7 linked regions of the Homo sapiens genome follow. The protein of the gene in region 7 purifies or fractionates together with the protein of the main gene of each other region. This does not show direct contact. Each region holds a gene or a part of one and is shown on either strand. Other genes may lie near its edges. The genes, in order: LMBRD2, ARHGDIB, ABHD17B, SLC25A46, ABCB8, MBTPS2 and SLC26A6.

What was found.
Region 1: the proteins of SLC26A6 (region 7) and LMBRD2 purify together in Homo sapiens (affinity purification with mass spectrometry; one large-scale study listed by BioGRID and IntAct). This does not show direct contact.
Region 2: the proteins of SLC26A6 (region 7) and ARHGDIB purify together in Homo sapiens (affinity purification with mass spectrometry; one large-scale study listed by BioGRID and IntAct). This does not show direct contact.
Region 3: the proteins of SLC26A6 (region 7) and ABHD17B purify together in Homo sapiens (affinity purification with mass spectrometry; one large-scale study listed by BioGRID and IntAct). This does not show direct contact.
Region 4: the proteins of SLC26A6 (region 7) and SLC25A46 purify together in Homo sapiens (affinity purification with mass spectrometry; one large-scale study listed by BioGRID and IntAct). This does not show direct contact.
Region 5: the proteins of SLC26A6 (region 7) and ABCB8 purify together in Homo sapiens (affinity purification with mass spectrometry; one large-scale study listed by BioGRID and IntAct). This does not show direct contact.
Region 6: the proteins of SLC26A6 (region 7) and MBTPS2 purify together in Homo sapiens (affinity purification with mass spectrometry; one large-scale study listed by BioGRID and IntAct). This does not show direct contact.

Annotation. Positions count from the first base shown.
Region 1 is NC_000005.10:36,141,700-36,146,018, reverse strand, and holds part of LMBRD2 (G-protein coupled receptor-associated protein LMBRD2), read left to right. Parts: intron 1-2,612; 5' UTR 2,613-2,669; coding exon 2,670-2,843; intron 2,844-3,419; coding exon 3,420-3,517; intron 3,518-4,319. UniProt on the Homo sapiens protein: Recruited to ligand-activated beta-2 adrenergic receptor/ADRB2, it negatively regulates the adrenergic receptor signaling pathway. May also regulate other G-protein coupled receptors including type-1 angiotensin II receptor/AGTR1.
Region 2 is NC_000012.12:14,941,130-14,945,019, forward strand, and holds the end of ARHGDIB (rho GDP-dissociation inhibitor 2), read right to left. Parts: intron 3,711-3,890; coding exon 3,647-3,710; intron 1,593-3,646; coding exon 1,393-1,592; 3' UTR 902-1,392; downstream 1-901. UniProt on the Homo sapiens protein: Regulates the GDP/GTP exchange reaction of the Rho proteins by inhibiting the dissociation of GDP from them, and the subsequent binding of GTP to them. Regulates reorganization of the actin cytoskeleton mediated by Rho family members.
Region 3 is NC_000009.12:71,872,939-71,877,257, forward strand, and holds part of ABHD17B (alpha/beta hydrolase domain-containing protein 17B), read right to left. Parts: intron 2,146-4,319; 5' UTR 2,143-2,145; coding exon 1,676-2,142; intron 1-1,675. UniProt on the Homo sapiens protein: Hydrolyzes fatty acids from S-acylated cysteine residues in proteins. Has depalmitoylating activity towards DLG4/PSD95. Has depalmitoylating activity towards GAP43. Has depalmitoylating activity towards MAP6. Has depalmitoylating activity towards NRAS.
Region 4 is NC_000005.10:110,741,478-110,745,796, reverse strand, and holds part of SLC25A46 (mitochondrial outer membrane protein SLC25A46), read right to left. Parts: intron 3,751-4,319; coding exon 3,708-3,750; intron 2,068-3,707; coding exon 2,010-2,067; intron 1-2,009. UniProt on the Homo sapiens protein: Transmembrane protein of the mitochondrial outer membrane that controls mitochondrial organization.
Region 5 is NC_000007.14:151,041,601-151,045,919, reverse strand, and holds part of ABCB8 (mitochondrial potassium channel ATP-binding subunit), read right to left. Parts: intron 3,960-4,319; coding exon 3,812-3,959; intron 1,950-3,811; coding exon 1,699-1,949; intron 712-1,698; coding exon 571-711; 3' UTR 1-570. UniProt on the Homo sapiens protein: ATP-binding subunit of the mitochondrial ATP-gated potassium channel (mitoK(ATP)). Together with pore-forming subunit CCDC51/MITOK of the mitoK(ATP) channel, mediates ATP-dependent potassium currents across the mitochondrial inner membrane.
Region 6 is NC_000023.11:21,863,617-21,867,116, reverse strand, and holds part of MBTPS2 (membrane-bound transcription factor site-2 protease), read right to left. Parts: intron 1-3,500. UniProt on the Homo sapiens protein: Zinc metalloprotease that mediates intramembrane proteolysis of proteins such as ATF6, ATF6B, SREBF1/SREBP1 and SREBF2/SREBP2.
Region 7 is NC_000003.12:48,628,954-48,633,272, forward strand, and holds part of SLC26A6 (solute carrier family 26 member 6), read right to left. Parts: coding exon 4,298-4,319; intron 4,132-4,297; coding exon 4,021-4,131; intron 3,444-4,020; coding exon 3,292-3,443; intron 3,140-3,291; coding exon of another isoform or gene 3,092-3,139; coding exon 2,927-3,091; intron 2,849-2,926; coding exon 2,696-2,848; intron 2,354-2,695; coding exon 2,271-2,353; intron 2,188-2,270; coding exon 2,040-2,187; intron 1,768-2,039; coding exon 1,654-1,767; intron 1,563-1,653; coding exon 1,485-1,562; intron 1,205-1,484; coding exon 1,109-1,204; intron 1,026-1,108; coding exon 919-1,025; intron 759-918; coding exon 689-758; intron 1-688. UniProt on the Homo sapiens protein: Apical membrane anion-exchanger with wide epithelial distribution that plays a role as a component of the pH buffering system for maintaining acid-base homeostasis.

The sequences.
Region 1 (4,319 bases), on a different chromosome or scaffold from region 7:
GTCAGGTTTATAACTGATTTTGTTGTTTGCTTATTATGCCCATAATCTTACCACCTAAAGACTATTGATGTTTTAATATATTTCATTGTTACCTTACTCTTTTTTATGCTTATGTAAAAATATGTGCCAAATTTTCAATTGCTGTTAGGGTAATTTTCTGATGTTATTAAATAATCTTAACAAACATTATTTCTTATACTACAATAATATTTCATCATTTGGCTCTGCCATGCTTTATTTAGCATTTCTTTGGTAATCTCTAATATTTAGTCTTTTTTTTGTATGATTGTCATATTCCTTGCACTGGACAATTTCAGGTCTAGTTCAAGTCATAAAAGGATTTTCAGTTAATTATGTTATATTTAAACTCACATCAATTGGGTTTTTTTAAAGAAAAAAAACCCTAGATCTCGAAGATGGTTTTGTTATCAGCACATTCTGCATTGAGCTTTCAGCCAACTACTTAATCTATGCTTAGCTTAAAAATAAGATTTGGCTGGGCGCTGTGGCGCATGCCTGTAATTGCAGCACTTTGGGAGCTGAGGCAGGTGGATCACTTGAGCTCAGGAGTTCGAGACCAGCCCAGGCAACATGGCAAAACCTTGTCTATTTTTTAAAACATAAGATTTGACTTTGTTGTGGTATAAGTTGTTTCATAGAATATGAAATTTGAAAATTTGAGTAGTATTTGGTAATGTTCAGAGTTTTAAGCCTTTTGAGTTGTAATAAGTATTTGTTAAATCAGTTTACCATTACACGAGTTTTACATTGCCTTTGAAGTCGTCAGTAATAGAAAAATAGTGTATGTACTAAACTACACAGTATTTTTTATTATTTCAACAAATATTTCTTGATACTACTGTATGCCAGGTACTAACTACATCAGACAACTGGAATATAGTATGGAATAAAATAGTCAAGTCTCTGCTCTCATAGAGTCTCTGGGGTAAGGGGAGAGGTGTGGAGAGACAATAAATATAAAGAATGTGTATTATATCAGATGAATAAATGCATTGAAGGAAAATATAGCAGGATAAGAGGGTAGAGATTGATGAAAGAAGTTCAATTTTAGATAATTAAGAAAAATGAAAATATTGACAGTTGAAATGGAAACTGTTTACCAATATAAAAAATAGTGAAGAAAATTGTTCATTAAATGTGATTTTTCTATGTGATAGTTCATGTAGGAGTATTTTGTATATAAATTTAAATTTAACCATTTAAAGTACTTAAATTGTCTTTTCTATTATTCTAAATAGTTTTAGTTAAAGATGTTTGTTGATTTGAAGTATTTCATTGGTTCTCCCTTATTTTGTTATTTATTTATTTATTTTGAGACAGAATTTTGCTCTTGTTGCCCAGGCTTCAGTGTAATGGCACGATATCGGCTTACTGCAACCTCTGCCTTCCAGGTTCAAGCGATTCTCCTGCCTCAGCCTACTGAGTAGCTGTGATTACAGGCACCCGCTACCACACCTGGCTAATTTTTGTATTTTTAGTAGAGATGGTGTTTCACCATGTTGGCCCAGGCTGGTCATGAACTCCTGACCTCAGGTGATCCGCCTGCCTTAGCCTCCCGAAGTGCTAGGATTACAGGTGTGAGCCACTGCCCCTTATTTTATTTTGTTGGGTTGATCACACTCTTGATTCTCTGTGTTAGGATATTAATCAATTCCTTGAAATACTGTAGTATGTAGATAAACAAAAGTCTAACATTGATTTTACAAAGGAGAAAAAGTTCATATTGCCTTTGATTAGTAAATTTTTTTAAGTATAGAGAGATATCAAATTTTTCAATTTTAAAATAGAGACTTTAAATCTCTATACTCTAACTTTTTTGAGTAGAGAGATATCAAGTAAACTATTCGCTGATGACTGTATCATAAAATTAAGAATGTTTTCAAATGTATGACTTTAATAGTCATTGATAAATTTTCTGCATATAAAATAGTAGAAAAATTAAAAATGAGAATTTATCAAAGTAAGTTTAAAGATTTATGTAGATAAATGGAAGTGATAAATATATTTTGTAAAGCAGTGAGTAAGAATTTCATGAAAGTTGAGTTGTTAGGTGAAATTAACACAAAAGAAAAATACTATTTCAAAAAACAAAAGGTTACTTTTAAATGGTCTCTTTCCGTTTTTTCCTTCCTCTCTTTTAGAAAATCTTAAATTATAGAGGATGAATAATCTTAGTAAAATGTATTTTACTAAGTATCTAATTTCCTAGGATTTAGTTAACAGCTTATTTGCATAAACTATTCTGTTAGGACTTATAATATTAAGAAACAAACTCCAGATGACACTGTATTAAAACTGTTCACATCTAAAATAAGAACTTCTTAATTTGTAATATTGTAAGAACTAATAATTTTTGTTAAGTTTTTGAAAATACAAGGTACGTGAAATTTTTTAAGTGTGCTTTAAAAATAAAATATAAGTACTTGAGGATAGGAATTACCCTTTTAATCTTATTCATAGTCCAATGTGAAGCATGACATTTCTCCAAAGAGTTGATTAATGTATTAATGTACTAATAAATATTCAGATGAAATTTCCAAATGTCATTTCCTGTGTTAATGATGCATTTTAACCTTCTTTTTACTTTATAGATATGGTCCAGACCTGTACATGAATAACTTTGGTTAGTCAGAGTGAAATATTCAATAATGAGTGGTGCAGCTTTGGGACTTGAGATTGTTTTTGTCTTTTTTCTGGCATTATTTCTGCTTCATCGATATGGAGACTTTAAGAAACAGCATAGACTTGTGATTATTGGAACACTGCTTGCTTGGTATCTCTGCTTTCTTATTGTCTTCATACTGCCTCTGGATGTTAGTACGGTAAGGAGTGAAATTTATTTTCACAATTTAAAAGACAAATTTTAATCATACAGCATGTTGGAAATAATGTTATTTCTTAAGACAGCTAAGTTATGTCAGTTTTGAATTAAAAGATTATATGGCCATTTGATCATTAAAAAGCATAGCCAAGGGCCGGGCGTGGTGGCTCACGCCTGTAATTTTAGCACTTTGGGAGGCCCAGACTGGCGGATCACAAGGTCAGGAGATCGAGACTATCCTGGCTAACACGGTGAAACACCGTCTCTACTAAAAATACAAAAAAAATAGCCGGACGTGGTGGCGGACGCCTGTAGTCCCAGCTACTCGGGAGGCTGAGGCAGGAGAATGGCGTGAATCCGGGAGGCGGAGCTTGCAGTAAGCCGAGATCGCGCCACTGCACTCCAGCCTGGGCGACAGAGTGAGACTCTGTCTCACACAAAAAGAAAAAAAAAAAAAAAAGAATAAAGCATAGCCAAGAAGGTAAGTTTAGATAGATAGATTTATAAACTCTGATGTCCTTTAAGTACTTGGTAACCTTTTGATTCTCATTTTTAAACCATACATTCGTTGCTTTAGACAATATACAACCGGTGCAAGCATGCTGCTGCAAATTCAAGCCCTCCTGAGAATAGCAACATTACAGGATTGTACGCAACTGCTAACCCTGTTCCAAGGTATTTCCTTTTTTAAAAAAAATATATAAACATTGTAGGGGACACATTGTTTAAAAATTGAAAGTTTTTACCATCCAGACTTTATATTTATGTAAGTTATCCTCATTCTCTACTAATTCTCCCCACCTCTATTCTTTCCTAGTAGACTTTTCATTACATCATATTCTAATTAAATCTAATTTTTAATATTTATTGGTCCACAAAGCCCTTCAGTAGACGGTAGTGAGAAACTTGAAGAAGTCCTGATTTTTTAGTCCTGGTTCTTCTTTACCAAGTATGTAATTTCTAAAACCTGTTTTTCCTCTCAGCCTATCTCAGATTTAAAAACGTGGGATGTATTTTCACTTTTGCCTAATTTACAAGGTTATAATAAAGACAAGTATTTCTGAACTTATGGTATTCCTTTCATATTGCACATCCTTCAAAAGCATTATAGATTTACATAAAAAATTAATAAAGTTCAAATTGTCCAAAGATTATATTGAATTCATATCGAACTTTTAAGTAAAAAGCTTATATATGTTGACTATAGCCTTTATGAATGCTTTCAGTAGTATTTGCATGCTTCTTTATGCATATTTTTAAAAAATCTAACTTCAGAAAAGGTAAATTTAAAATGCAGGTGTTACTTCCATTTGAAGCACTATTAAAAAAACTGGATAAAGATCAGCAGCAGCTACAGATTGTTGCAAGTTCTTGGGATATCCTTCTAGCTTAGGAATATGGCTCCATGGCAGAATTTATGATCAGAGACTCATCATGTCTTCAAAAATTTAAACAGAATTATGTATAATTGCTAGCA
Region 2 (3,890 bases), on a different chromosome or scaffold from region 7:
AAGTAATGAGGACATCTATACCTTTTATCTCTACAGTAAGGCCAAGGAGAGTACTCCAATTTTTAGGAGTAACGTTAGCATTCCAAGGCATAATATTTTTACGAACGTATGGAGAGTGACCAGTTTGAAGATTTCTCAAAAAACTTGAAACAGAGCTACCATTTGATTCAGCAACCCCATTACTATGTATATATCCAAAGGAAAGTAGATTGTTGTACCAAACAGACATGCACATGTATGTTCATTGTTGTGCCATTCACAATAGCAAAGACACGGAATTAATGTAGTTGCCCATTAATGGTGGATTGGATAAAATATGTGGTGCATATATACCATGATATACTATATGGTCATAATAAAAAAGTAAAATCATGTCCTTTGCAGCAATATGGATGAAGCTGGAGGCCATAATCCTAAGCAAAGCAATGCAGAAACAGAAAACCAACTTCCATATGTTCTCAGTTATAAGTGGGAGCTAAACACTGAACACACATAGACATGAACATAGAAACAGTAGACACTGTGGACTACCTGAGGGGTAAGGGAGGGAGTGGGGCATTTTTTGAAAAACTATCTATTTAGTACTAGGCTCACTACCTGGATGCAATATACCCATGTAACGAACCTGCACATGTACCCTCTATACCTAATATAAAAGTCGAAATTAAAAATAGCTAACTAAATAAGTAAAATGTAGATTTCCCACTGGCTGTATTCTGAATGTGCATTGCCTATTATAGTGTAATAGGGGACCAATTTGTTCCCAAAGATGTAAATATCTCCTCCAGTGTGTTTTCCTCATCCCCATCCCCTCTGAGGGAACTCATGAATGTGAACCATCCAGTTATCATATTTGTTCAAAGCAAGAAAGCAGGGAAATGAAGGTCTCAGCCAGAACACACACAGTTATTGTTTTATTCTTGTTCTCTTGTGTCGTTTACAGTGTCTCTCACAAAAGAAGAACTCCCTCTGGCAGGGGATGTGACTAGGGACTCATTGGGCCAGCAACAACCACAAAAGAATCTAGGCATTAGAATGAACTACTGGAACCTGAGTCAAAGACCTGTTAGTGATAATTTGCCCATTTTCTGGCCTCTAGTTGCTTGAATAGGGGTAAGACAGGGAAATATTAAATGATTGTGTACTGAGATGGAGACGTGGAAGATCTGGCCCTGATGGAGGATCAGAGGGAGCAGGTTGGGTGAAAGCCCGGTTTTAAGCCTCTTGTTCTAGGGACCACGTTGAGTGACAGGGTGGGAAAAGATGCATCAATAAGGAAATGTGGCAGTGTTGAAGAGGGACCCAGCTGTGGACAGGGAGGAGGGACAGGGTGCTGAACACGCCTGAGAGAATTCTTCCAGGTGGCAAGGGTGGGGAAAGGGGTGGATGCATTCATTCTGTCCACTCCTTCTTAATCGACAGGTTCCACTCCCAGCTGAGGTGGTCTTGCTTGTCATCGTCGGTGAAGAAGGACTTGTTGTGGTACGTGCCTCGCGCCAGCATGCCCTTGGGAGCCTCCTCAACTGGAGTGAGGAACTCATACTCCTCAGGCCGAGGTCCATAGCTGCCAACCATAAATGTTGCTTTATCCACTAAGAAGAAAGAAGAGTTCATTAGGGTAAGAGCCTGATAGAGGAAAAACATACACTGCAAACTGGAGAATCTGGACTACAGCCTACAGTGATTAAAGTCAAGAGCAATGGTTTCCAAGCCTAAATAAACATTAGATTTACCTGAGGCATCTTTTTTTTTTTTTAAGATGGAGTTTTGCTCTTGTTGTCCAGGCTGGAGTGCGGAAGCACAATCTCGGCTCACCACAACCTCCACCTCCCAGGTTCCAGTGATTCTCCTGCCTCAACCTCCCGAGCAGCTGGGATTACAGGCATGCGCCACCATGCTTGGCTAATTTTGTATTTTTAGTAGAGACGGGGTTTCTCCATGTTGGTCAGGCTGGTCTCGAACTACCAACCTCAGGTGATCCACCCGCCTCGGCCTCCCAAAGTACTGGGATTACAGGTGTGAGCCACCGCACCTGGCCCTGAGGCATCTTTTTAAAAAAATTATTCTTTAAAACATTTTTTAAGTTGGAGTGCCTTTTAATAATATAGTTTCCTTTGTCCTACTTCCAAAGGCTATGGTTCAGTAACCTTCTGTGGGTCCCAGGGATCAGTGTTTTTAAAAAACTACAAAGTTGATTCTGAGGTAAAGTTGGGGAACCAGTGGCCTAAATCAATGGGGATTAAGCCTGTTTTTTTTTTTTTTGTTGTTGTTGTTGTTTTTTTTATGGAGATATAGCAGATTACACCATTTTAAAAAACTCAGACAAATTGAGACCTCAGTTCTGATCTCAGTCCTGCAATGGCCTAAGTCATATAACATTTTTGAGCCTCCATTTCTTTGTGTATATGATGGACTTTAAGGATCTTCTATCTACAAACTGTCATTCTATGAACATATCAGTTGGGGGAGATAAAGTAACAGATGGTGATGAGAATTCATGGATAGAATAACTGGATGGAACAACAACAGCAGTAAGTTGGTAAAAAAAAAAGTGAAGAACTAGGACAAATGGTGAAAATAGCCAATCAAGTTTATTTATAGGTGGTTAACTGGAATATATATTAAGAATAGTTGGGCATTGAAAAGTATACATAGGCAGATAGGTGGCATATAGTTGGCTAAGTGTTGCTAATAAGTTTGAAAAAACAGTTGCAGACATGTCACTGTCCTTTTGTCTAAGTGAGGTGATACGGGCTTTATGCCCAAAGGAAAATAGGAAATTAAACTTTTTTTTCATGAGACTAGGTATCGGAAAGGCCAATCAATATCTTTCAGGTCAATGGTCTTCTCTGGGATTTGAGAAATTGACTGGTCCTCTATGTCATCCAGATTTATCAGACAATTTCTCCCCTATCTTGCTTATTAATTTGGTGGAAACTGAGACATGCTTTGTTGTTTCTTGCCTCTGGAGGGGACAGACCCTTAGGTAGAAAGGAACTGTAAAGTGCCTCCATCACCTTCCCGCCTCTCATTTCTCCCTGCCTATATTAATGAAAGAAAATTGAAGGCAGGGTCCCAAGGCATGACAAGAAGAATTGCAGATTAAGTAATGTTGTTGTGTTATTTTAATTAGACAGGCTTTTTCAATCCTAGAAAATATTTTTTTTTCTATTTCTTTGTTAGGAAATTGAGCATTGCCTCCCCCTTCCCTCCAATGCCACCCCCACCTACTCCCACCCCAGATACACATGGCACTGGGCAAGTTTTTTCTTTCTTGGTTTTCTCTGACACTTGGGTTTTGTACCTGTGAACTGCCTTTTTTGGTTGTTTACTTTGTAGAGTATTTTTATATACTTTATTTCCTTTAAACTTATCTTGGTTACTCTTCTCCTTTACGAGTGATAATATTGAATCCAAAAAGCTGACTGCTGAACGTTAGCAGCTGATGCAGTCTAAACGAGGTCCCCTGAGCATTGGCCTTGTCAATGTCTATATCAGAGGTGTATTTGTGCCTTTTCCTAGAGCCGGCATCCACAGCTTTTATTGTATTCTCATCTGAGTCTATAGCTAAAAGTTGCTAATAACCAGAAGTTAAAGTATCAATGAGAAGCAGTTTGGGACAGTGTGGAAATGTGGGTTCCCTTACCTTTCACCCCAGTCCTGTAGGTGTGCTGAACGTATTTCAGGCCTGACACAATATCCCTGTTCACCTGCAGGTGGGAAGGAACCAAGATGTTCAGATTAAGAGGGTCTTTCATTTTTTCTCATCTTTCATGCTGATCCTGCCTAGCTGAATCGTCTCTGACAATGAAAAAACTAAAGATTTAGTTCAGAATTGGTGTTTCTATAATTATTTAGCATGGCTGTGAGGCAAAGATTAGAGAGGGGAA
Region 3 (4,319 bases), on a different chromosome or scaffold from region 7:
AACTTCGCTATGAGAGCATAACTTTATTACATTTCTTTGGAGGGAAAAATAGTTTTAAAGATATTTTTAATATCTTTAATAATATTAACTACTTTATTATTAAAATTGAGGAAATTTTTCCTGACTAAATGAAATCTTTAATATTTAAACATTAAATTAGAAACAGTAAGTTTTCTTTATATCCTATAGCTTCAGTCTAAAACATCCTGGAAGTCAGATATTTTATTTTCATATAATATAAAGAATAGCCTATATTAAGGTATCTGTTTATTGTACACTAACCTGACTAATAATACACTGAAGTCTACCAAATTGTGATTTTTTTTTCAAGAAAAATGTTTAGGTATCTTGGTGACTAGAAAAGATTAATGCAATTTCTAGTTCCCCAAAATGTATGCTGCTATAATCAAAGAATAACTGACATAGTAAGAAAATTTTATTAAACAATTTATCATAACATTAAAACTTCTTTTTTTTTAAACAGAGTCTTACTCTGTCACTTGGGCTTGAGTGCAGTGGTGTGATCTCAGCTCACTGCAACCTCCGCCTCCCAGGTTCAAGTGATTCTCCTGCCTCAGCTTCCCGAATACCTGGGATTACAGGCACCCGCCACTGTGCCCGGCTAATTTTCGTATTTTTAGTAGAGACGGGGTTTCACCATCTTGGCCAGGCTGGTCTCGAATACCTGACCTCGTGATCTACCTGCCTTAGCCTCCCAAAGTGCTGTGATTACAGGCATGAGCCACTGCGCCCAGACATTTTTTTTTTGTATTTTTAGTAGAGATGGGGTTTCACCATGTTGGCCAGACTGGTCTCGAACTCCTGACCTTGTGATTCGCCTGCCTCAGCCTCCCAAAGTGCTAGGACTACAGGCGTGAGCCACCGCACCCAGCCTAAAAAATTTTTTTAAACTTGATATAATCTCTCCCAATTTTAGGAACACAGAATATAAAGTAAAATCTCAGTTTTACAGAATGAATACTTGAAAAATAATTCCAATAAGGTATCTTTAAGTTGTACTTCCCAAGAAGTAATCACATAAAATAATGCAAATCTTGGCTTAAGATTTTAATAGAAAGCAATCCAGCCTCATACTGTTAATGACAGATCAAGTGAATAATTAGCTATGTCAGTATTTTCTCTCATTTCCTTGAAAGGTTGCAGCTTTGAATAAACATTTTTTATATCACACTCCAATAAGAAAGCTTACAAAAACCAAACATTTGTCACTGGATTTAATTTTTTTTTTTTTTTAACTTTTTAAGAGATGAGGTCTGACGCTGTCACTCAGGCTGGAGTGCAGTGGCACGATCATAGCTCACTGCAGCCTCAAACTCCTGGCCTCAAGTGATTCCCCTGACTTTGTCTCCTAAGTAACTAGGACTATAGGCATGCACCATGGACTTCCAGCTAAGAATTTAAGTTAAAAAAAACATACATATATACGTGTATTAATGTAGACAAACAAACCTGAAACTGTCTTTAAAAACTTTGTTTTGCTATTATGTGAAATTTAAAATTGCTGTCTAAAATATTTATTCACAGGTATATAATAGTAAATATAACCTCTATATAGCAGTTATGTATAATAAAAACAGCTTTTATTCTATTCTTACACAAGATATTTTTAGCTAACCACCACGAGTATGAAAAATAAATTCCAACCACAATTTACCTTGTCCTAAGAGCAAGCCAAGCAGCTTCAATGTCTGCATAGAGGTTCTTCTCTGTGGGTTTCCCGGAACTGGCACCATATCCAGAATAATCATATGAGAATATATTACAATTAATCCGTGATCCTAGTCCTATGTAAAAGCTGCTCATTTGACCAAGATCAACAGCATTTCCATGTGAGAAGAGTAAAGTGTATTTCGCATTGGGTGAACAACGTACAAACATACAAGCAATTCTGTTGCCTTTACTGGTTCTAGTCATGAAACACTCAATAGCATCTTTTTCTCTAGAAGAATACTGCCAGTCTGCTCGTTCAGACAGATGTAAAGTCCAACGGCTTCCGCTTTCATCACACATCAGTGTGTAAGTTGGATCAGGTGGCAAAAACGCTAATTTTGAAGCAATCTTCCCTGGACAAGGTGGACAGCAGAAGAGGCAACATAGCTCACTAAATGAAAGATTATTCATGCTCTGAAAAAGAAAAGGAGATAGCAAATATTTTAATAACTGAATGTAGACTCATACAATAAAAAGTTAAAACACAGACATGGGTAAATTTTATTGGTGGTTAATGACTATTACTATTTTAGGTATGATTCCAAACAGATTTTTGGCTTCTTTTTTTTTTTTGAGACGGAGTTTCACTCTTGTTGCCCAGGCTGGAGTGCAATGGCGCAATCTCAGCTCATCATAACCTACGCCTCCCGGGTTCAAGTGGTTCTCCTGCCTCAGCCTCCTAAGTAGCTGGGATTACAGGCATGCGCCACCACACCCGGTTAATTTTGTATTTTTAGTAGAGATGGGGTTTCTCCATGTTGATCAGATTGGTCTCGAACTCCTGACCTCAGGTGATTCACCCACCTCGGCCTCCCAAAGTGCTGGGATTACAAGGAGTAAGCCACCACGCCCGGCCTTTGGCTTCTTTCTAGAAGTACTTTAAATCCTGGGGTGAGGCAAATATTCCTGACCAGCAGACAGACTCAAATCCTATATGACAGGTTTCAAATAGCAGTGATTATTATCTCATTTAACATAAATGTCAAAAATGATAAAGGTAATATTTGCCATTTCTTTACAAATAACCTGAAGGTATGAAATATCTTTAGTGTAGTCTGTAATTTCTATGTAACTCAGCAAAAGTTCTTAGAACCTCATGGAGAAGCTAGGAATTTAGCATAAAGTGAATACATACTAATAGCATTTATGAAGCTATTTGTCAGGCATTGTGCCAAGTGCTCTATGTGTGTTACTTGGTTTAATTCTCAGAACAACTGTGTAAGTTGTTGTGAGAAAGGAAACTTGCACAAGATGAGGCAGTGGTGGAGCCAGGATTTGACTCCAGGCTGTCACTACACTATGTTACTGGGCTACACTGCCTCACAGATTCAGAACACGCTCAGAAGACTATCACTTTGGTCACAGTGCCAGTGGCCCAAATAACCTATAGAACATTAAAGTGTATGTATGTATGCATGCATGTATGTATGTATGTAATTACTGCCCAAACTAAAAAGGCTATAATATAAAGTTTATTGTGGAAAAAAGGTAAAATCTACTAAAGGTAAACTTTTCTAAATGTTTGGAAGAGAAAGAGTACAAGGTTTAAAGTTAGGAAGCTGGGGTAAAATCCTAACTCTACCACTTACCGTTTGCCAGCTGTATGTCCTTGGGCAAACTATCTCTTTGACTCTCATTTTCTTCATAAGTAAACAAGGCCAATACCTACACTGAAGGACCTGGTTGTGAATATCAAATGTTGGTGTAGTGAAGGCCCATCATACAACATACGGTGAGTGATGGCCATATCATTGTCACACTTTAACTTAGGGACAAAAATAAAGTAATACTTGTTAGTTCTATCAGTATTTCCTTCTATCTTGTCCTTTTTCAAATTCCTGTCTCTTTTTAGCAAAATTAGGCCATTGCTTAGTTCCAGAGAAAAGGCATTTAAAACCAACACCTTACAGGTTTGGTGGCATCCAATTTTCTCCAAAAAGAAAAAAAAAAAATCTAAATATAAGAATAGGGGGAAAAAAGTACCCTATTACACCAAAAATGGGAAGAAAACAACTCAACAGAGTGACTAAATGGTTGAGAATATCTGGGGGAAAAAATGCCCTTTTCACTCAATACAGAATCAAATATATCCTATAATGCTCAGTATAAATGTGTTTATAAGAAGCAGCAGAAAAAAGCACAGGAAGAGAGGAACAAGGGTAGGTATAACATAAAAGACTTCAAAAGGTGAGGGAAGGGCAGAAAAACATCTTGGATATTAGGAAATGCTTTAATTGCTTCCTACCTTTATTTCTTTTTAGGCTTCAAAATACAGCCTGAATAAGTTAATGGCTTACTCTGGTTGGAACAAGAAATAGGACAGAAATAACAACTAAGTGTCATCTGCTAACTTTAACTGAGGGCTTCCTGAAGTGTTGTGCTGAGAATGATTCTAAGGCATACACAGGGCTTAGCCAGCAAAAGATGTGATAAATTAGTGATGTTTACTATAGACTCTGGCTACAAATTTACTATCCTGGTCAGGAGGATAAAGTGTCTGTTGAAGAAGATGAAAGGGAAGGAACTCAAAGGATCTGTTCCAGAGGAGGAAATGACCTGCAGAAAGATGATGAGGTACAAGGTATAAT
Region 4 (4,319 bases), on a different chromosome or scaffold from region 7:
TTTGTTACTTATATGTAATGTATCCATTGGATCTCCATGTTAATATTACTACAATGTAAAATATATATCTGAAATACACTGTTCTGTGGCACATACAGTCAATGCTACTTTAATGGTATTTCTGTATACATACTTTTCAGTGCTAAGCATGAACAGATTAATTTATAATGATTTATACTGTTTTGAACTCTAACAGCTAACAAATACAGGAAGCATTACTTTACAGAGAAAGTGGGTTATAACAGGACGGGCGCAGTGGCTCACACCTGTAATCCCACCACTTTGGGAGGCTGAGGCGGGCGGATCATGAGGTCAGGAGATCGAGACCATCCTGGCTAACACGATGAAACCCCGTCTCTACTAAAAATACAAAAAATTAGCTGGGCACGGTGGCGGGCTCCTGTAGTCCCAGCTACTCGGGAGGCTGAGGCAGGAGAATGGCGTGAACCCAGGAGGCGGAGTTTGCAGTGAGCCGAGATCATGCCACTGCACTCCAGTTTGGGCAACAGAGCGAGACTCCGTCTCAAACAAACAAAAAAAAAAAGTGGGTTATAACAGAGTTTGCAAGTGGGGTCCACTGACTCCTGAGGGCCCCATTACCCTTTCAGGGGCTTGACAAGTTCAAAATTATTTTCCTAGTGATTACTAAGATATAATTTCCTTTTTTCACTGTCTTGACATTTTCACTAATGGTACAAAAGCAATGGTAGGTAAAACTCCCAGCTCATTAGCACAAATTGAGGCAGCACCATCAAACTGTATTTTCGTACTTACAGTAATTTTTCACCTCATTTACCCATAGAGAGAAAAAAGCAACCTTCATATAGTAATATCCTTGACAATGAAGTAACAAAATGTTAATTTTATGAATCCTTGACCTTTGAGTACACATCCTCTTTCTAATTAATATCCTGTGTGTTACATAAGGAAGTAAGATTGCTGTCATGAGGAAAGCACTTGTATGATAGAACTGCAAGCTAAACTAGCCACTTTTTTCACGGAACATCATTTTTACTTAGAAAAACTCATTGACGGACTATACCTATTCACTTTCAGGACAGACATATTTTAAAAAATAAACAAAGTGAGATTGTTGATTAAAACAAAAATAAATAACAGTATTTACTGTCAATGATAAGTTTGAATTTTCAACTAAAACTCAGAATTTTGGAAAATCTATATGCATCGTCAAGAGCTGACAATACTTATAGACTTTTCTAGTGAGATCAGTAGTATTTTTAATGAAGATGATTTTTTGATATTTTATAATCAAATGTTTTAACAACAGGAAGATCTATGTAACTCAATTGGTCAATATTTTTCAAATAACTTATGCACAATTACATGGAATCAGGCATAAGTAAAAATATCTATTCAAGATGCAGTATAGTTAAATGGATTTTTTAATGTAACAAAGTATAAAAAGTTCACTAAAATGATTTCTGATTTCACATTGCAAATAACCTTTAAGAAACTGCGACACAGTGAGTTTTGGTGCAATTGCAAAGAATACCCACAATTATCTCAAAAGAATATAATATACTCCTCTCCTGCTTTCAACTATACATGTGTACAAGACTAAACTTCCTTGCTTCTTTCAAAAACCACGTGATGCAACAGATTGACTGCAGAAGCATACGAGAGAAACTGGCTCTCTCCTATTATGTCAGATATTAAAGATATTTGCAAAAATGCAAAATAGTTACTTTCATAAAAACATATTATCTTACTAACAGGTGTTATTATTTTAATGAATTATATAGATGCATTGAAATTTTCCCAATTTTAATTTCTGAAATGGTAACTATCAATAGATATGACCAACATAAACCAAAGTTATTTAGGATCCTCAATATTTTTTTAAGACTTTAAAGAGGTTTTGAGACCAAAAAGTTTGGAACATTTCACATGAAGTAACAATTACCTGGTTTCATGTCATTTATGTGAGTTCTGCCCTTCATATTAGGGTCAGAAGTATTGCTTCAAAAGATCACAGAAATTACATTTACCTGACATTGGCGGCGTAGAACAATGCAAGGATGTGCCAATACATTTTCTGTAAAGAGACTATATAAAAATAATTTATGTATATGTATGTCTACATAGAGATAAATTAAATTTACAACAGGTATCTTTCTGAAATTATTCTTGCCTGAAGAATCATGCATTATTTTATGTTTTCCATTCTTAAACAAATTAAATAGATCTTTAAAAATGTCTAGAAATGTTTGCAAATGATTCTACCCATAACGAAATTCAATATGAAAAGAATGAAAACCAGATCTGCATACTAGTAAATAAGGGAAACAATACATAATACATAATATTAATGTCTATAGTATAAGATGAAACTAGATCTCTGAATGTTTAATGTGGGAAATGGCACATCAATTAAATGGCATTTAATGCTGCAAATTATTTCTTTCAGAAAATGTCCTAATAACAGAATTCCTATCAGCAGAGTCATTTGATCTTCATGAACCCCATTCTAAAAATGTTTGGTTTTGGTGCACTTAAATTATAAGGTTTAAGTATAAATTTAAGTATAAATCTTAAATTATAAGATTCTTAATGACCATGTTAATTGACTAATATTTATGTATCAAATATTTATTTTGAGAATGTGCCCCACAAAACAATTACAGCTGTGGGTTTCAGGTCTCAGAGTGACATATACATACATGTGCACACATATTTATATGTAATAATAGTCTATCAAATGAATCAAAGCTTTAAGTATAAATATTGAAGCAAAAAACAACTCCAGCAGAATGGAAAACACAGATTTTATTTATATTGACATTAACACCCTCGGGTTTAATTATGCAAATAAGGTGTTTTTCTTCGTTAAAATGTTTAAAATAATGATCATTATGGCATGAAATGTAAGCTTTGTGCAATTCCAATATTTTTGAAAATGGTATTCACTAAGGATCACAATAATCAAGACTAAAGGATTTTCTTAAAATGATCGTTAGATATAAAAAAAAGTAATGCTATCACCAAACGCTGATTATGAACAAAATCTAGATGCTATGTTGCTAAATATCTTGTAAGCATTAGAGTGTTTAGAAAGAAGCCTCCATGCACAATTACTTTTTTGATGGGAGACAGACAGATTACATTTCATTTTATTCTTTGGATAGACCCATGAAAAGAATGAAAACCAGATCTGCAAACAGGTAAGTAAGGGAAACAATATATAATACACAATATTAATATCTACGGTATAAAATGAAACTAGATCACTGTATGTTTGATGTGGGAAATGACACGTCAGTTACATGGCATCATTAAATGCCATGTAATTTTTCTTTCAGAAAATGTCCTATGAAAAAAGTTCTTATCAGCAGAGCCATTTGATCTTCATGAACCCCATTCTAAATTATTATTTTGATGGGAGAGAGATAAGATTACACTTCATTTTATTTTTTGGATAGACCCATGAAAACAGTTACAATACTCATTACAAAATTACTTTGTGTTTATAAAATTGGATGACTAGTCTATCCTTACTGGAAAAACTATCAAATTATATATTTTAAATAATGGTCATTTTTTTTCTGCAAAATATTATTCAAAATTTAAGCTGCTGCTTCAAAGAAACAACCTAAAGGAAGCAATAATAATCATTTAATATTGTAAATTAAAGAAAAACTCTAAATTCAATAAATAAAAGCTGTAAACGTCTTTAGATAAAACATTACCTTGCAAGTCCAATACCAAATCCAGCAAATCTATTCAGCTGTTCTAAAGTAAAAAAAAATAGAAATAAAAAAATAAGATTACTGATAACCAATTACTGACAATTTAGGTTTAGTCTCAAAACAATTTTAAAAAATTTATTTTATTAACCTGCTGTTCATTTAAACCTCAAAGTCAAATTCTGATAGGGGCCAGGTAAATAATTTAAATGAATGAAGGACTCTGCTGGGGTCTGTGGCAAATTGCAAGGTGTAGAGTGTTTAAAGCACAATTACGCTTTCACTCCAATTCATTGTTGCCACATTAGAGTGTGGGCCCAGGGTTTTGAAGTTGTAATTTTTTCAAAAAAAGATATTCTCATTTTATATAAAAGCTTCCAATTTTAAAGTCCTGGACAACTATTTCAAAAACTGTTAACACATTGTCTTGGCCTAATGAAACAAATATCCGGACAGAACCTAAGGGCTACCAGTTTTCAGCTTCTGATTCCAATCAAATAAAAAATTTTCCATGGTTGGCCGCAGCTGATATTCCACCTGCGACTTTACCTCTTATGCTGTAAAACTAGTTATTCACTGTTACTGACGGAGAGCACTTTATTAAACCAATAACTA
Region 5 (4,319 bases), on a different chromosome or scaffold from region 7:
GAAGATGGGGACTGTGGGTCCCGGGGTGAGCCAGGGGATAGGCTCCTTCTCCCATGGAGGGAGTGGGGACACAGGAGAGGGAGTCAGTCGCCAGTCTAGGGAAGTGAGGTCCTAGCAAGGGTGTGGGAAGAGCCTAGGTTTGAATTCCCAGGCCCACTTCCAGACCCTGATTTTTAAAAATTCCCTGGAGCTACTGTAGGCCTGGCCAATTTGAAGCTGCTGGGTGGGGCAGGGAGACTGGCCAGAACGTCTCTTGAGAGGTCTGGAGGGGTCTGGGCAAAGGGAGAATAGAGTGGAGGTGTCTCGTGGAACTCTGTCTCTGCCCATTGCAGCCCAATGACTCTGGCAGACTCTGGTGGGAGGGAGGCAGCCGGCAGGACTGGGGAGGGGAGGGAGGGATTGGCCTCCCCTGCCAGCTGCTCGGCCCCGGCTTTATTGTGAGCAGGAGCAGCCGCAGCGACTCTCCACATGCTGGCCCTCCTGGGGGCTCAGTCCCCAGTAGGCTCCCCCAGGCTGAGCCCCAGCCCTAACACTGATGCTTGGCAGCGACCACACCTCAGGGGGCCCTTCTCAGGACTTGTGCTGGTGGCTCCTGGGGCCTTCTGGCTTTTTGGGCGGTGGGGCCGCTGTCCTCGGGGCATCCAGGGCCTGCCTCCGGATGAGCTCGGCGTATAGCCCGCCTTTCTTCAGGAGCTCTTCATGTGTCCCAGCCTGGAAGATGGGAGGGAAGGGCGGATGGTTGCTCCAAGGCATGCAGGCTTCAGAACCCTCAGAGAGCTGAGCCTCTCTATCAGCCATTGGGCCCATGGTCACTTAGGCCGGTGTCCCTTCTGGGGACACTCTGAAACCAATGCCCAATCTGAAAGGAACCGCCACTGGCATGCTGCATTAGTTACTGCCACTTCCTTACTTAGCTGAATTTTGGAAGAACATGATTCCCTCTGTCCCCCTTACAGAGCCCAAGGCTCCAACTCAGGATCCGTCTCCCTGCACGAGCCCCTCAGCCTTGGCTTGAATGAGTGGCTGTTAGCCAACGCCACACGGCCTCTGGGGTCCTACTCCTGACTCCCTGCACAGGTTCCTTGGCGCTGCTTCTCCTGCACCTGATACCCTGGGCAGCTAGCCCTGCTCCTTGCTCCCAGCACCATACTCTGAGTATGTTTCCTTTTTGTTTTTTGAGACAGGGTCTCATTCTGATGCCAGGCTGGAGCGCAATGGCACAATCATTGTTCACTGCAGCCTCAACCTCTGGGGCTCAAGTAATCCTCCCGCCTCCGCCTCCAGAGTAGCTGGGAGTACAGGTGCATGCCACCACATCCGGCTAATTTTTTTTTTTTGGTATTTTGTAGAGACAGGGTCCCGCTATGCTGCCCAGGCTAGCCTCAAGAGATCCTTCTGCCTTGGCTTCCCAAAGTGCTGGGATTACAGGCACCCGGCTAGTACTTTTCCTTTTGATCCTGGGAGCTGATGGTGCAATTATACTATCCCAGGGGACAGAAGAAGAAACTGAGGGCCTGAGAGGCCAGGGCTTGGCTGAATGCAGGAACTCCTGACTCTATATGGGACGCTGCTTCCAGAATATAGCCCCCAAGGCCCTGGGGCCAGGCCACAACTTCATATAACTCATTGCAGCATTGTGCCACTGTCCGTGATGAAGCCATCCTCAACCCACTGATCCACGCCCCCAGGACAACTAACCTCCCAGACACGGCCATCGGCCATGACGACAATGCAGTGGGCCCCACGGACAGTGCTGAGCCGGTGGGCAATTACCAGCACCGTGCGGCCTGCACTGGCCCGGTCCAGGGCCTCCTGTACAACCCGCTCGGACTCTGCATCCAGCGCGCTGGTAGCTTCATCCAGTATCAGCACCGTGGGCTGCTTGATAAGGGCTCGGGCGATGGCCAGGCGCTGCTTCTGGCCCCCAGACAGGGTAGTGCCCCGTTCACCTGGGAAGGGAGGGGCAGGGCAGGAGCCTGAAGCTGTGCACTTGAGGGTGGCCCACAAAGGGGCACAGGGTCCTTCCTGAACGCCCATCAAGATCCTCTAAGTGCCCCTCTCAGCACTGTGCACCCTCCTCCTGCCTCTGACCCCCACCCCGCACTGTGCATCCTCCTCCTGCCTCTGACCCCCCACCCCACACCGTGCACCCTCCTCCTGCCTCTGACCCCCACCCCGCACTGTGCACCCTCCTCCTGCCTCTGACCCCCCACCCCGCACTGTGCACCCTCGTCCTGCCTCTGACCCTCTACCCCGCACTGTGTACGCTCGTCCTGCCTCTGACCCTCCACCTTGCACTGTGCACCCTAGTCCTGCCTCTGACCCTCCACCCCACACTGTGCACCCTAGTCCTGTCTCTGACCCTCCACCCCGCACTGTGCACCCTAGTCCTGTCTCTGACCCTCCACCCCACACTGTGCACCCTAGTCCTGTCTCTGACCCTCCACCCCGCACTGTGCACCCTAGTCCTGTCTCTGACCCCCACCCCGCACTGTGCACCCTCCTCCTGCCTCTGACCCCCCACCCCACACTGTGTACACTCCTCCTCTGGGTTCCCCCTGCACTGGCTCATCCCACCTCTGGGTCCCTCAGCCACTGTGCACACTTGCCCTGCCTCTGAGGGTGGTGTGACACCGCCAGCAGGGCTTGGTGCACTCCAAGGGAGTTGCCAAATGCCCCTCCCCAGCCATGGCAGTGCCTCAGGCCAGGATGACCCACACCCTGCCCTGTGCCTGCAGTTCCAAGCCACCTTCCCAGCCTCCCGGGTCTCTGTGGCTGTGGGGAACATCCAGCACCCAAACATGGGCTCTGGGGTCCAGTGACTCCAGGGAGGTGGGATTCGAAGCCCACAGAGGACAGCACAAGTGGCAGCCTGGGAGCCAAAAAGAACCTCAAGGTGACAGCAGGGTGACAGGTCAGTAAGGACGCAGCCCCAAGAAGGCCCAAATGAGCAGAAAGTACTAGGATCAGAGACACAAGGAAAGTGCCACCCAAAAGAGATGTGGGAGAGCACCCAGTGAGGACAGCTGGCATCTGGACAGTGTATCAACACGGCTGGAGGAGCCATCTAGAACACGATGGCTGGGCTGGGGACACTGGCCCCACAGCTCAGAAGGCTGGACTCAGACTGACCAGAGTTGAGAAGCCCAGGTATCCCTGTATCCTGAGAAGTGCTGAAACACTGTGCAACAGAGCCAAGACACTGGCCGAGAAACATGGCCCCGAAGGCTGGAAAAAGACCTGGGAGCTCCGCACGTCAAGCTGCAAGGTGCACGCCCTGCAGTGCCAGGCTGCGTGTTCCTAGTTCAGAACCACCAGAGCCCTCTCCTGGGGCCCATCCAGTCACCCCGATTCTAATGAGAAACGACTTTAGAGATGAAAAGCACAGGAAGGAAACAGGAGCCAGAGGGGGATGGATGGTGGAGAGGAGGCAGCCCCCCATTTCTTCTGTTCAGTCTGGGGAAGTGGCGGCCTTTTAGACTCGGTGAGGACTCCAAACACCATGCATCACTGTGTCCCTGGCCAGGAGCCTGTCATATGCCCTCTGTCGCATTCTCCAGCTCCTCCTAGAGCCCGTCCTGTCTCTGCAGCCTGCCTGGTCTGCTGGTTCTGAACCACACTGGCCTGGACTCCCCTGTCCCCACACAACGACTCTGTCCCCTTTGGCTGTGGTTCTCGTCTTCCCTGACACAACTGTCTTTCTCCCCAGCTGTCCCTGCTGCCCTCAGTCCCACTGGGCTGCTCACTGCTCCTGTGGAATCCTGTGTCCCAGTGCCTCACCACCTGGTTCCCGGCAGACCCGAGCACCCACCGACGACCGTGTTGTAGCCCTCGGGGAAGCTGGTGATGAACTCGTGAGCATTCGCTTCCCGGGCGGCTGTGTACACCTCTTCATCGGAAGCTTCCAGCTTCCCAAAGCGGATGTTTTCCATGATGGTCGTCCCAAACAGGACGGGCTCCTGTGGGTGAGGGGTTATGGAGACAGAGTCCATAGAAACATTCTCTTTGCCCCAGAAACTGGAGGGGCCACCATACACAATGGGACAGTCTATCTGGTGGATTAGATTAGGATCTCTTGAAGAATCAGACGTTCAAAGTCAGAGGTGAAGTGAGGATGCAGAGTGGCCCCCAAAAGGGAAGGACAGTTCGACTTCCTACCAAGGGCCCAGAATCCCTCCCCAGGAGTGGGAGTGGGAGGAGCTGGCAGGGCAGGGCGCTGGGAGTTGGGGGCTTGCATTTGCCTTTCTTCTGCACAGGCACTCTCCCTGGCGGACAGCAGGCATGCCCTCTTCATTCACGGCCCTCAAAGGGAAGGGTGG
Region 6 (3,500 bases), on a different chromosome or scaffold from region 7:
CTCCCCTTATCCTTTCTGATAAATTTGAGAATCATTTTGACAACCACCAAATATTATTCAAATTAGGATTTTTTTTCTTTTTTTCTTTTTTTTTTTTTTTGAGACAGAGTCACGCTCTGTTGCCCAGTGGCGAGATCTCAGCTAACTGCAACCTCTGCCTCCTGGGTTCAAGTGATTCACCTGCCTCAGCCTCCCGAGTAGCTGGGATTACAGGCGCCCACCACCACGCCCGGCTAATTTTTTTGTAGTTTTAGTAGAGACAGGGTTTCACCATGTTGGCCAGACTGGTTTTGAACTCCTGACCTCAAGTGATCCGCCCACCTCGGCCTCCCAAAGCGCTAGGATTACAGGTGTGAGCCACTACGCCTGGCCCACATTAGGATTTCTAATGTCACTGCAATGACTGCAATAACTAGGGGTAAATCCATAATTTTACATTTCTGACATAGGAACACGACATCTGTTTACTGAAATCTTCTACATCTCTCAGTACAGATTTGTAGTTTCTCTATATAGGCCCTGTGTACTTCTTTTAAAATGTTAGTTTTTTATTTTTTATATGTCACATTACTTTCTGAATGAGATCTTTTCTTCCTATTACATGATCTGTTTCTTTCAGATACACAGGAATACTACATTTATTTTTGTATATTTACTTTGTAATTAATCACCAAACTGAACTTTCCATTTAGGATGTCTTAGTCTTTATTCTCTTGGATTTTCCATTATTTGCTAATAATAATCATTTATCTCCTCCAACATTCATACCTCATCTTTTCCTTCCTGTTTGGTCTTATAGCAATGACTGTAACTTCTAGAACACTTTTCAATAGTTGTGATGGAATGCCTTTTTTGCTTTCTTCATGATTTTAATAAAACAACAGCCAAGAAACAGTAGGACTTAGATGGAATTGAGGATCAATTTTATTCTGGTTTATATACTAAGCAATGAGACTGGGGCAACAGTAGAAAAATCAGAATATGGGAGACTCAGGGTTTAAAAATATCATGGGGCCGGGCACGGTGGCTCATGCCTGTAATCCCAGCATTTTGGGAGGCTGAGGTGGGCAGATCACTTGAGACCAGGAGTTTGAGACCAGCCTGGGTGACAGAAAGATACTCTGTCTCAAAGAAACAAAAAAACAAAACAAACAAACAAACAAAAATCATGGGTCAAGGGAGAAGAAAATCTATAGTTGTCATCAAGGCAGCAAGATACCCATAGACTTGAAGCTGGTGATTATTATTAAGCGGGGGCTAAGGGCTACCCCAATCAAGCCCTACTTATGCTTAGTGTGGTTTGCAAATAATAATAAAAAAAAACCACAACTACCTTAATTCTCTAAACACACAGAAATGATTTACAGGTCACCAGATGACTGAATAGGTAAAATAACAACTCAATATTCCTTGAATAACTCACAGTAGTTATAGCTGAAAGAATGTAAACTATCAATTTGGCAAGGCTTACACTGTGTTCTAAGTTTAAATTCCAGCTTACTATAATCACAACATCACTTTTATCACCAATGTTTTTTACTTTGCCCTCAAATAAACTTACAACTGGCTTATACAAATAAGAACAGGGTTTTCAATATTTAAGAAGGATTTAAAAACATTTAAGTATAGAAACAGAATGGTCAAATTTTACTTCCACTATTTATAAAGGAATTTTTAGCAACAAAGCATAGAGAATTTTTTTAAAGCAATCTACTCTTCACTTGGAACCAGATAGCAGGTATTGTTTAATCCCTCTTCTAAAAATTCTATACACCATAATTCAAAATTTAAACATCTTCATTTACAGTGTGCTCAGGAAGTATCTCATCTCATCTCTCTTTTTTCCCCACCAAATTTCAGACAGATGTTTAGTGGCTTTTTCTTTTCAAAATCAGTATATATTTCATTTTTTTTTTTTTAAAGAAATAGCCCCGTGTGGTAGCTCTAGCTCATGCCTGTAATCCCAGCACTTTGGGAGGCCGAGGTGGTTGTATCTCTTGAACCCAGGAGTTTGAGACCAGCCTGGGCAACATGGCAAGACCCGCCTCTCTACAAAAAATACAAAAATTAGCTGGGTGTGGTGGTGCACACCTGTGGTGCCAGCGACTTGGGAGACTGAGAAGTGGGATGATCACTTGAACCCAGGAGGTCGAGGCTGCAGTGAGCGGTGATTGTACCACTGCCCTTCAGCCTGGGTGACAGGGTGATATCCTGTCTCAGAAAAAAAAAAAAAAAAGAAAGAAAGAAAGAAAAAAAGAAAAAAACCTATTACATATACAACTTATTTTGCTTTTGAAACAGAGTTCTCACTCTGTCATCCAGCTGGAGTGCAGTGGTACAATCTCTGCTCACTGCAACCTCTGCCCCCCAGGCTCAAGCCATCCTCCCACCTCAGCCTCCTGAGTAGCTGGGACCACAGGCATGCACCACCATGCTCAGCTAATTTTTTGTATTTTTAGTAGAGACGGAATCTTGCCATGTTGCCCAGGCTGGTCTCAAACTTCTGAGCTCAAGTAACCTGCCCACCTCAGCCTCCCAAAGTGTTGGGATTAAAGGCGTGAGTCACCACACCTGGCCTATATATGCAACTCTTTAAAAGTAGCATTATAAAACTAGATTTATTGGGAGGCTGAGGCGGGTGGATCACCTGTGGTCAGGAGTTCGAGACCAGCCTGGCCAACGTGGTGAAACCCCATCTCTAAAAAAACATAAAAAATTAGCTGGGTGTGGTGGCAGGTGCCTGTAATCCCAGCTACTTCGGAGGCTGAGGCAGGAGAACCACTTGAACTCAGGAGGCGGAGGTTGCAGTGAGCCAAGATCGTGCCATTGCACTCCAGCCTGGGCAACAAGAGCAAAACTCCGTCTCAAACAAACAAACAAAAAACAAAACAAAACAAAACAAAAAACTAGATTTAAATGACACCCTGGACTTTTTACATGGAAGTGGGAAGACATTTTAGAAGCAATGAAATTATATTCCTAAATTTAAAACCAATAAAGTAGGCAGAGGGTACACACATATTTCTCTCTCCCTCTAAATACATAATTTATGTACATCCCTAAACTTTGAGGAACACACAGGTTTCCCACGTTGTCTTCCACTTTGATGGCTACACCACGGTGAGCTCACAGCTCAGCAAACATTTAGCAGGGATACTAAACTCTTCTTTTTAGAGACAATTCCAGATCTTTGAATTTGTCCTGTCTTGAATTCAGGGCAAGATAAGCATCTCCTCCCCACCCCTAACCTTGCCCCCTTGCCTGGGAAAGACGGCAGGGCAAAGCTGTTCAGCTGTCTACTAGGCTGACAACTCACAACTGGGAATGAGAAGTTAATGGGCTAGGTGATGTTTGGGATAGCGGGACTAGTTAGTTCTATACCATTTAATAAGCTCTGAAAGAGGTGCGTGGACCCAATTATTGGTGGGGATATATATAACCTTCTTTAGTCTTAGTTTTGGACATTAGGTGTCAATTTTAAGGAAAAAGAAGTCTCAGTA
Region 7 (4,319 bases):
CTCTTAACCTTTCTCTTGGGTTTCCAACCCCTGCCTTGTGTTCTGTTTTCTGCACCCAGACAGAGGTCCTCCTAGGCTGTCATATCAATCAGACCTTCCCCGCTCCCACCCCATTCGGGTCACAGCCCGGGTCTCTGCTGGGCTCCAGGCATGCATGGTAAGGGCTGGGCTGCCCCCTCATCCTCTCCCATGTCTCAGACCCCTTAATTCCTCCCCGCACTGCCTAATTGCACTGTGCCCATGTTGCAGGCAACAGCCTTGTTTTATTCCAGAGCCCCCCACCTATGTTCCTAGCACTTGGCCCAAGACCTCTCAGGAGATAAATGGATGACTGAGGACTTAGTAACCCCACTGATCAGATCAGGAAATGCCTCCCTTCCAACCTGGCGCCCCAGGGAGCTGCCATTCCGGCTCTCTGACCCACGGCTGCTCTGCAGGTGGAGCTTGTGCTGTTGACTCCACGACAGACCCCTCCCCAGCCCCAGACCCATCTCTGTCCACTCTCCCTCTGTCCCTTCATACCTCTAGAGGGGGTCATAGACCTAAACTCCTCCCTTGAAATCCCAAAGACCAAAGCCAAAGTATCCTCAGCCCCCAGTTCCCTGGCCAAGTGTGGAACGAATCCACAAAGGCTCATTCTTCCTCCGTCTCCCCATCCACACCATCTCACTCAGCCCCTGACACTCACCTCTGAGTACTCTGCCACATCTCTGTAAATATCCGTGTCTGGCACCTGCCCCAGGACAGAGTAGTGGGGCCTGTGAAGGAGAGAGAGAATGCACGAAGAGGGGGCAGAAAAAGGGGATAACAGAGGGGTCCGAAGGAGCCTGAAGTCCCCAGAGATGTGGGGAAAGCTGCGGGGAGCCCTGTGGTACTCTCTCACTAGCTGGAATGAGGGGACCAACATGGCGGACTCACATCTGTGTCCGGACCACCACGAGCAGCAGGGAGAAGATGACCGCAACCACCAAGCCAAGGTCCAGGTTCAGCAAGATGGTGGCCGTGAAGGTCACCAGCCAGATAAGCTGAGAACAGAGGGCAGCGGTTGGAGGGCGGCGAGGAGCCATGGGGCTGCCCAGTCCCTGCCCTGGGCTCCCAGTGCACTCACCAGATCCGCCCGATTGGCCTTCCAGAGGGAGCGCATGTCGCTGAGCTGCCTCAGCATGCCCTTCAGGTTCACAATGATGATGGCTGCCAGGACCGCCTGGGGTGGGGACAGTGCCACCAGGGGCCATTGAGGGCACCCGATGCTGACAACCCTCCTCACCGAGGCAAAGCCAGACTAAGCCCAAGCACTCAGGCAGTACCCCAGACACAAACCCCCACCCAGCCCCTGACCCTTGTCTCCAAATCTCACCTTGAAGATCTCAGCCTTGAAAAACAGAACCTAACCTTGTGTCCCCACCCCTCGCCTGAACCTAGACTGGCTGATTTGAGAGCCCTGGCCTGGCCAAGACCTGAAACCTGGCTGGGTGGGGGCTCACCTTGGGCAGGTCATGGAAGAGTTCCCCAAGTTTGACAATGATGAGGAGGATGAAAAGGGAAGAGATGGCTCCAGCAACCTGTTCGGGGAGGGAGTGAGCAGGGGAGAGACCTCCTTCCCCAGGCAAAGCAATGTGCATGCCCACACCCATGCCCACACCCAAAGCCCACCTGCGAGTTGCCCCCGGTGCTCTCCTGTACCAGGCTCCGAGACATAGAGCAACTCACGGGGAAGCACTGGAAGATGCCTCCGATAAGGTTACTGAGGCCCAGGGCCACCAGCTCCTGACGGGGGACAGTACGGGTGTGAGAAGACTTCCTAGAAGTGGCTGGTCACTGTTCCACTGTATCTAGGCCTGTGCATCCCCAATCTCCATCCCCACCAAGTGGCCCCCAGAGACTGGATGCTGTCCCACACGTCCTGCTCTCCCACCCTCAGTCCCCCACGTGGCCTCAGCACATCTGCTGTCTCCCTGTGTCCCACCGGTTCCTCCCCCACCCGTTGCTGGCGCCTCCATACACTTGGATGCCTCCTACACATCCCGCATCACCCAGACCTGGTTGCTGTCCACCCGGTAGCCGTGCCTCAGGGCGAAGATCTTCCCCAGTGAGATGGCAATGGCAAACCCAACCACAGCGATGGTGAAGGCGCTGCCCACGAGCTTTGAGAACAGCTGGGTGTTGGGGGCCACTGGGGGCACCAGCCTGTGAGAGGTATCTGTGAGGCCAAAGCAAGGTCCTGTCCTGGCTGCCCAACCCTCCCTGACCTGATGGAGGCCAGAGCTCACCCTGCAGGGATGTTGCCCACGACATCTACCTCAAATCTGTGCTTTAGACCCATGCCATAGGAGATGCCTGTGGCCCCGATGAGCTGTGGGAGAGGACAGAGTCAGGGAGGCAGGTGCTGGCACCATGGTCAGGGGGACACATAAACCACTGTGAGGTGAGGAGGGAGATACTGGGCAAAACCTTCTTCGAGGGTGGGAAAAAGTCACGTAGGGTGAGAGACAGGCAACACCATTTCGGCTATGGGGAGATGCTGTCAGGGGCAGGAAGAAACCAACATAGGGGCTTTCTGCTGTGCCCCCCACAATACCCAAGAACCCTCCCAGCCCCCCTCCAGCTGGCCCTCAAATACAGGAGGCTGCCCACGTGGCAAGGACCCAGCCTGACCTGCCCTTCTCCCCTGCCCTCCACTCCCTGGCCCTCGAACCGTGAGCAGCTCCCCGGGTATCGGCATGGGCAGCTGCTGCTGCAGCTTGTCATTCAACAGCTTCACCACCACGAGCACCACCCCAGCCACAGCTGCAGTGACCACGGTGCCAACCTTGCTCTGGGGCAGCTTCCAGCAGACCTCCAGCACTGTCTGAGGAGAGGCCAGGTCACAGCTAGCACTCAAGGCCATGGGGCACACCTACCCCTCCCTCCCCCTACCCTCACTCACATAGATGAGGGACAGTGGCCCAGAGTGGCTGCTCAGATGGAGGCCAAACACATACTTGAGCTGTGAGACGAAGACCTGCACAGCTGCAGCTGTGGTATAGCCTCGGACAAGAGGTTCTGACAGGTAGGTGACCACGAAGCCGAAGTGGATCAGGCCCAGCCCCACCTGTGGGGCGGCCAGGGGCAGTCAGGAGAGGCAGGGGTCCTGGGGTTGCTAATGAGGAGCGCAGGGCAAGTGGGATGGGAGGGGGATGAGTAGACGGCAAGAGGAGGACGACGATGGTCAGACACTCAGGGGAGTACAGACAGGACAGTGGCGGGAGCAGAAGTGGTGGTGGGGGGCACATACTCCTGACTGTTCCACACCTGGAAGAGGCCAACCAGGACACTGAGTGTGGAGGCCACCTGTACCCGGGCAGCATCTCTGGCTGTCTCATTGATCATGGAGTCGTTCAAGGCCTGCGGGGCCAGGGATTCTGTCACACTGCCCACCATCACAGACATGACAGCAAAGGTCCCTGTAAGGACGGCACGGGGCAGGTCTGAAGAGGAGAGGACACTGCCCTGCCCTGGAGCCCTGGTCTTAAGAGAGAGGCCAGGAGACTTCCAGTTCTGGATAAATGTACTCAGATTATGGCTGCATGAACAGGGACAGTGCTGGCGGTTCAGGTTTGGCCAGGCCAGGAGTAAACCCTGAGCTCACAGGCCCTTAAGCATGGCTAGAAATGCTGGCCCTGTCTCATCTACCCTGTCCCACCTGTGTCTACTGGTCCCGGGACACAGAGGCTCTCTGTGGAGTAGGGAAGGGGTCAGGGCTGGCCTTAGGCTGCTCAGGCCTCTGCCAAGTTCCAGGCCCCTTGGGCTGCCTCACCCACTCTCATCTTCCTGGAGCCAGGGCTTTGAGGTCACCTGCCTCTGTGGTCCTACAGTCAGGGGTCTAGTCCTGCCTGGGGATGACTCGTGGGCTAGCCCAGGGATGCAGCACCAATGCTGCCCTCTTCCCCAGCCGCTCCTGCCCTGCTCAGTGCCCCCTCACCCTGCCCTCCATGATGGATGTGGGCATCCTCCTGGAAGGCTAGGCCTGCCTCCACTTACCCACGGAGATGTGCCGGGAAGTGCCAAACAGGAAGTAGATGAAGACAGGGTAGAAGGAGCTATAGAGGCCAAACACGGGGGGCAATCCAGCCAGGAGGGCGTAGGCCAAGCCTAGGGGTAGAATGGTAGCAGTGCAGGCCTGGAGAGCAGATCTTGAAACGATAAGGGAATCCCAGCCCTGGGTTAGGTGCCATAGTTCCAAGGTAGAGGTCATGGCCCCAGTTTTGGGCATCACAGACCACAGGGTTTCCAGGCCGACGCACTGAAGGTGGCTCACCCTGCGGAAGCTGCATGATGGC